2 linked regions of the Homo sapiens genome follow. The protein of the gene in region 1 interacts with the protein of each later gene in a pairwise test. Each region holds a gene or a part of one and is shown on either strand. Other genes may lie near its edges.

Region 1 (3,926 bases):
AATGCAAAAAGGACTCAACTTTTTTTTTTTTTTTTTTTGAGACGGAGTCTTGCTCTGTCGCCCAGGCTGGAGTGCAGTGGCACCATCTCGGCTCACTGCAACCTCCGCCTCCCAAGTTCGAGCAATTCTCCTGCCTCAGCCTCCCAAGAAGTTGGGGTTACAGGCGCCCGCCAATATGCCCGGCTCATTTTTTTTTTTTTTTAAGTTTAGCAACTCAGGCCGGGCGGAGTGGCTCACACCTGTAATCTCAGCACTTTGGGAGGCAGGCGGATCACAAGGTCAGGAGTTCAAGACTAGCCTGGCCAACATGGTGAAACCCCATCTCTATTAACAGTACAAAAATTAGCCTGGCATGGTGGCTTGTGCCTGTAGTCCCAGCTACTCAAGAGGCTGAGGCAGGAGAATCGGCTGAACCCGGGAGGCGGAGGTTGCAGTGAGCCGTGATCTCGCCACTGCACTCCAGCCTGGACAACAGAGTGAGACTCTGTCTCAGAAAAACTTTAGCAACTCAGACCAGGCATGGTGGCTCATGCCTGTAATCCCAGCACCTTGGGAGGCCGAGGAGGGTGGATCACTTGAGGTCAGGTGTTCGAGACCAGCCTGGCCAATGTGGTGAAACCCCATCTCTACTAAAAATATAAAAAAATTAGCCAGGCGTGGTGATGCGTGCCTGTAGTTCCAGCTACTCAGCCATATGAGGCAGGAGAATCGCTTGAACTCTAGGGGGCGGAAGTTGCAGTGAGCCGATATCAGGCCACCGCACTTTAGCCTGGGCGACAGAGCGAGACTACATATCAAAAAAAAGAAAAAGTATTTAAAAGTTTAGCGACTGCCCTGCCATTTATGCAAAATTGAATTTCCCCCATGATTTGAAACACTACCTTTAGTGTGTTCGGTTCTATTTCTGCAATTTATTTCCTTAGTTTGTCTCACTAGCCAAACTTTTATATCATATGTTGATTAAATCATATTTTATCATATTTTGATAATTGATAAGGGGAGTACCTCTGTTCATAGTTCTTTTTCCAGAATTTGCTCCATTATGCTTACATTTTAATTTTTTCAGATGACCTTGAACATTATCATCAGGCCAAGTTCCAAAATATAAATAATTTTAGTATTTTGACTTGGAACTCATCATTTTTAGATCCTAATCCTCATATGGTCACAATCGTTATATGAGAAGAAACTAATGTTTGATTCCTGTTGTTTTTTTCCATCCTTCTGAACTAGCCCTTTGGCAGTTGTAAAGACTTCTCAAGGATAGGTATTAGGTTGATGGCCTTAAGTGTTATACAGCTTTTTTTCTTGTCTACTCTCCAAGCCTAAAGCTCAGAATGTTATGAAGAAAAGCCTGAACTATACTCTGATTGAGGGTCATGTTGATTATCATTTTGTATTCTCAAGGTCAGAATACTGTTGGAGAAACTACAGGAACTTTTTGCCCTTAACACTGCCCTAATGTCCCTGCAAAATAACCGAAATAAGGACAATCATAATAATGGTTAGCCAGTATTATTTGGTGTTTACCTTGTGCCAGGTAAAGCGCTTTCTTTACACGTGTTACTCATTTAATAATTACAGCAGCCCTATACTATGAGTACTATTGTCTCCATTTTACAGATTGGGGCACAGAGAATTTAAGTGGTTTTCTCAAGGTCCACAGCTGAGCCAGGATTTGAACACAGGTAGTGGGCTGCAGAGCCTGTGCCCTTAAGCACTGTGCTGTTTTAGATTAGGCTTTCAGAAAGACACCTTCACAAGAGTGTTTTAAGGCCCAGAAGATGTAAAACTGGTAGAGAAAGAAGTACAATGGTGTTATTTGAACTGCTTTAAGAAAGTTAACTTGCCTGTAGCTAGTTTGGGCCTTGCTCTTAATCTACCTGTATCATCAAAAGGTAAATCTCACTGTAGTATAGGAGGGAGCATAATGAAAAAGGCTAAAAGGGACCTCTTGTATAGATTTTTTGTTTTGATAATATGACTATGTATTTTTTCTTTTTTTTTTTTTAACCAAGAACCAACATTGTATTCATCTGTTTAAAAAATAGTTAAGAAAACGATTAAGGCTAGGGCATAGTACTATTTCATTACTAATTCAGTTTGGACCAGAGAAGTACTTCAAAGAAGAATGGTAAAAATATTTCCCTATCTGCCAATTAAAAGTGATTTGTGGAATCTCTTTATAAATCATTGTGTGCTTTACATCAACACTATTTTTCCCATTTTTATTGTCTTCTATTTCTTATTTTTCCCATTCTTATGTTTTATAAGCTGATGTTAGCTTTAACTGGTGGTTAATAAATATAATATCATTTTGTGAGGAAATTAGTAGACAGACAATGCCTGAAAGTTTTTCCATGGAAGAAAACACCATGGACTTGGCAAATACAAGGGGAAGTAGTTGAGTCATTTATGAAGCCTGACAAGGGTCAAATGGTTGCTTAACTGGTTCAAAGGTAAATGATATCTATGAAAAGTTATAACAACACCATACAGTGAGGGAAGGTGATCTTCCTATTACAAAAGAATTCTTATATAACATGGGAATTGAAGGAGCATACGAACACATAATTAAAATATGGTCAAGACAGCTGGGTAGAACAAATCAGTTGCCCAAAGACCACATTTCCAGTGCATAATAAATCAGATATATGTCTGGATATGGATATAAAGGAATAGAAATAAGACCAACAAAGTGTTTACTAAATTATTTCTGTTTCCTTTTCTTTTTCTTTTTCTTTTTTTTTTTGAGACAGAGCCTCGCTATGTTGCCCAGGGTGGAGTGTAGTGGCCGCAATCTCAGCTCACTGCAACCTCCACCTCCCGGGTTCATGCCATTCTCCTGCCTCAGCCTCCCGAGTAGCTGGGACTACAGGTGCCCACCACCACGCCCGACTAATTTTTTGTATTTTTAGTAGAGACTGGGTTTCACTGTGTTAGCCAGGATGGTCTCGATCTCCTGACCTCGTGATCCACCCACCTCGGCCTCCCATAGTGCTGGGATTACATGCGTGAGCCACTGCGCCCCGCCCTATTTCTCTGTTTTCTATCTGAAGTGCTCCTGAATTAGTAGTAATTGTAACTGGTTTATTCCACATGTAACTCCTAGTATGCCAAGAAAATTAATCTAGCTTGATTATGATATCATAAAACAAACACATTATATATAGTTATCCCTCCGTATATGAGGGAGGTTGATTCCAGGAACCCCTGAGAATACTTAAATCTGCACATACTCAAGTCCCACAGTTGGCCCTGCAAAACACTCATAGATGAAAACTCAGTTTTAACAGATCACAAACTCTCTTGAAACTAAAATAAAAATATATTTTAAAAAGTCAGGCTTTCCTGTCTACAGATTTTACATACCTTTTCTATCCGCATTTGGTTGGAAAAAATCCACAAAGTGGACCGGTGCAGTTCGAGGCCGTGTTGTTCAAGTGTCAGCTGCACTTAGAAACCCGTTTTATTGGCCGGGCGCGGTGGCTCACACCTGTAATCCCAGCACTTTGCGAGGCCGAGGCGAGTGGATCATGAGGTTAGATCGAGACCATCCTGGCTAACATGGTGAAACCCCATCTGTACTAAAACTACAAAAAATTAGCCGGGCGCAGTGGCGGGTGCCTGTAGTCCCAGCTACTCGGGAGGCTGAAGCAGGATAATGGTGTGAACCCGGGAGACGGAGTTTGTAGTGAGCCGAGATCGCGCCAGCCTGGGCGATAGAGCGAGACTCCATCTCAAAAAAAAAAAAGAGAAACCCGTTTAATTTTCATCTTAATTTCCAGACAGCTATTGGTCACAGTACGGTATTCATTACCTTACATAAATTTCTTTTTTTTTTTTTTGAGATGGAGTCTTGCTCTGTCGCCCAGGCTGGAGTGCACTGGCACGATCTCGGCCCACTGCAATCTACACCTCCTGGG
Region 2 (3,926 bases), on another chromosome or scaffold:
AGGGAAAAGTTAGCTTTTGTAAAGCATATGTATAAGAAAATTATCTAAAAGCACAAGGGTTAGTCTATATGTTGGACATTTCTTTGCTGATAAAAACCTAAGGTTTGGACTCTTAGTGAGCAAAATACAAGTATCATATTAATATGCTTTAGTCGATTTGCTCTGATTTGTGGTAATATATAGGCCATATTATTGCATAGTTGACCTTTACCTTACAGTCATCATCTTTCATCCGTTGAAAGAAAATGGGAAAAAATGGAATTTAACCTATTAAATTAATTTTTCATTTAATTTGTCAACAGAGTCCTTCAGCCAAACCAAGGACAGAATGCACCTGTTCATAGGCTACTTAGTAGACAAGGGTAAGAATGCCACACACGGGTATTGAAAACTACGGAAACCAAGATTAGATTTGAGAGGGAAAAATAAATCTAGTGTTCTTTATGTAAAGGATAATGGTTTTTCAATGGGATTTTTTTTCTTTATAGCATTGGGAAAGATATTTTAAAGTTTTGTCTTCAAATGTAACCCTCTTGGTGTACTGTTGTGTATTCTAATTACTGTCTTAAGTTGGGATGTTTTTACTTTTCATTTCATACCATTTTACTCATAAAGTATTTTAAATATCCATATAGTAAATTCAGCATCACCGAAGTGATTCTCCAACAGAGTATGACTCGTGCTTATAGTCTCCTGCTGAAGCCAGAGTTTAGCTTTCCTTACTGTGCGCATGCATGAGACTTCAGTTCTTTTCAAGCTTATTTGTGCTTTGGACAGTTGATGCAATGTGATTGCTTTCTTTGAATTTTGAACATTTAGACCTTAATGCCAGTGACTTATTAATTTTTTTATATTCAATTAGAACCCCTAAGACATCAGTGAAGGGGGTTGTGCAAAATAGACAGAAGCCTTCACAGAGCAGAGTGCCTAACAGAGTGCCTGTTTCAGGTTTGTAGAAAATAAATTCCTGAAGCCCATTCAATAGAAGGAAGTGCACAAGCTGCCCCATAACTCAGGCCATAGAAGTGGAATAGATTGTCTTTCCTTGCCACCATAATTTTGGCATATTCACAGTCATCTTATTAGTGTTCTTTGGTCTTAGCATTGTATGGCAGTCAGGAAGTCTTAGTAAAAGTGTGATTCCAGTCTTCATTTCTATAATATTTCTGTGGAAAGCACCTTGTATTTTTCATTCTGAAAAAATTGTAGAATTTGCCATGCTTAATTCAGAAAACCTTTTTATTTAATGAATAAAAGATAACGATCATCTCTGGTGCTAAGTCTGTGCATTGTCTGTTCAGCTTGGGGAAGTGTATCTGCACATAAGGGGATAAACTTTCTCCCTCAGACTATAAGATCACATGTGAATATGCCAGTGGGAGGAGGGCTTCATATTTTGCTCAGTCCAAAGCTTGAGCTAAATCTCTCCTTATGTTCATTATTTGAGGATTAAGAGCTAAACTAAAAACTGTATTTTAAAATTCTGTTTATGGTGGCAAGAAGACAAACTCATTCTTGAGCAAATTCAAAGCTCTTAACCAAATGCTTTAATATTTTTTAGGTATCTTTGTTAAGACACTTTGATTAAGCTCACTTAAAAATTATGTGATCCATTTAAAAATACTTTCCAAATGTTGTGCTTTAACTATACTGCTTTCTAGACATTTACAACAAACCTAAATTAATCACCAGGCATTGAAGATTAAACCTTTAATCAATTTTAATCTTTCCATTAATATACAATTAGGCAAATTTTAGAGCTTTATTACTAAGTGATTTCCTTCAAATTAGGAGGGAACAAGCTATTGGTCGTAACTTTGAAATGATGGCTGACCTTTTGTATGTATGTAGTGAAGGTAATTCATAGTGTCACACATATATAGGATAATTTAAAAGATCATCTTTGGAAATCATTGTGAGTGACAGTTAATGGAATTGTCTTAAAGGATTACATAGCTGAAGATACTGTTTACTCCAGAGGCAGTCAGAATAAGCTAGTTTGAAAGATAACCATTTGAAAGGACTCAGACCAAACACCAAACCTGTGGAATTTTAAGACATTTTCTGTTTTTCTCATGTTAGTATTCTATATTGCACTGAAACTTAGCAAGTTGGAAAATCATTGAGGAATTAGTATTGTTTTGCCTGATACCAATTTGCCACAGTGACTACTCTCCATGTTCTTTTCTCATGCATTTCATCTCCACTATTTGTCACTTGTGAACTTATAAGCAAAATAGCAAGTACTGTTTTTATTCAGCAATACTCAACAGTATAAAGGATGTATAGTCAGTCACTGAAGTTAGTAACATACAATGAAGTTCATTATTTTGAACTATTGAGGTTAAATTGCATTGCAACATACTTATTAATACAAATGAACTTAACCCTTGAATTAATATGTATCTAAACAAGTACAAAAGTCTGTTGCTGTTGTTTTCTAAAGATTTACTTATACATGAGTGCATATTTAGACAATTGAAAGAAACTAAATAATTGTGTTCTTTTTTTTTTTTTGAGACAGAGTCTTGTTCTGTTGCCCAGGCTGGAGTGCATTGGTGTGATCTTGGCTCACTGCAATCTCCACCTCCTGGGTTCAAGCCATTCTTCTGCCTGAGCCTCCCAAGTAGCTGGAATTACAGGCGCGTGCCACCATGCCCAGCTAATTTATTGTATTTTTAGTAGAGATGGGGTTTTACCATATTGGCCAGGCTAGTCTCGAACGCCTGACCTCAGGTGATCCGCCCACCTCGGCTTCCCAGAGCTCTGGGATTACAGGTGTAAGCCACCGCGTCCAGCCAGAATTGTATTCTTTTATATAAACTGAGAGTTTGGGATATTGGCTGGTTAAAATGCTAACTATGAATCTGAACACAGGAACTCACTGTCGCTCTTGAAAAGATTACTCTTTCCTGCTTAGAGTTTTAATGGTCTGAATTATGTTTTAAACAAATTTGAAATTATGTTCTGATTTGCTCTAAATGGAGGCAAATCCTTTGTTAAGCAATTTATAGAAAACTAACTTTTCTTATGATAGAATATCATACTCTTAGACTGAAGTAGAATTCTAAAATGTTAAAGTATGCTGCAAAGCATTTAGTTATTTATAGTTTTACAAACCTAAATTGCAATCTCTGATGTTATCGTAAGTGATCTTTGACTTACGGTTTTAAAACACATTTCTTCATTTGATGTTTTGTGCTTGACTAGAGTTTATATAGTGAAATTCAGAAACCACTAATCAAAGCAGAGTAGGAGGTGGTCATGCAAAATGGTTAAGTAAAATAACACATCAGGTGGACTTGGGTTATCAGAGTTCTTCCTTCTAGCTCTGTTCCTTAGGCAACTGCTCTCCTATGCCTCAGTTTTATTATCCTTAAAATGGTCATAACAATTTCTACCTCAGGATGATTCATATAAGGATTAAATATGATAATGTATATTGCCTAGCTCAGTGTTTGTTCCAGAGTAAAAACTCATTAAATGGTATCATTATAGAAAACCTCCCATTGAGAAGTAATACTGGTTTTGCTCTATTTTTAGGAGTATATGCAGGAAAAATCCAAAGAAAGCGGCCAAATGTTGCGACAATTTAAGAAGACAACATTCATTAGGATAAAATGGGGGGAAGGATTATTATTCATGTTATTTTCCCTGCCCAAGACTTTATTTAACCCTGGACTCCGTTTACACAGACAAAGTGACATCAGAAGGCTGAGCACTTATCTGGATCATTTGGTCAGTTTGGTAATTCCTGCTCCACACCCCTATTTTCCTCTTAATAATACGTTTGGGTGAAGACAAATTAGTGTTTAGTAATTGCATCATCTCTGTGCTTACCTATACAAACATAAGTTTATTTTATATGCCCAGATGTCTACAGAGACCCTTTTTGTAAATGTCAAGGACATTTGGATTTACTTTTA

Evidence for each region.
Region 2: the proteins of BPNT1 (region 1) and CCP110 interact in a two-hybrid assay, tested with the Homo sapiens proteins (one study listed by IntAct).

What each region holds. Positions count from the first base shown.
Region 1 is NC_000001.11:220,083,159-220,087,084, reverse strand, and holds part of BPNT1 (3'(2'),5'-bisphosphate nucleotidase 1), read left to right. Parts: intron 1-3,926. UniProt on the Homo sapiens protein: Phosphatase that converts 3'(2')-phosphoadenosine 5'-phosphate (PAP) to AMP and inositol 1,4-bisphosphate (Ins(1,4)P2) to inositol 4-phosphate. Is also able to hydrolyze adenosine 3'-phosphate 5'-phosphosulfate (PAPS) to adenosine 5'-phosphosulfate (APS).
Region 2 is NC_000016.10:19,547,653-19,551,578, forward strand, and holds part of CCP110 (centriolar coiled-coil protein of 110 kDa), read left to right. Parts: intron 1-302; coding exon 303-362; intron 363-862; coding exon of another isoform or gene 863-948; intron 949-3,543; coding exon 3,544-3,619; 3' UTR 3,620-3,926.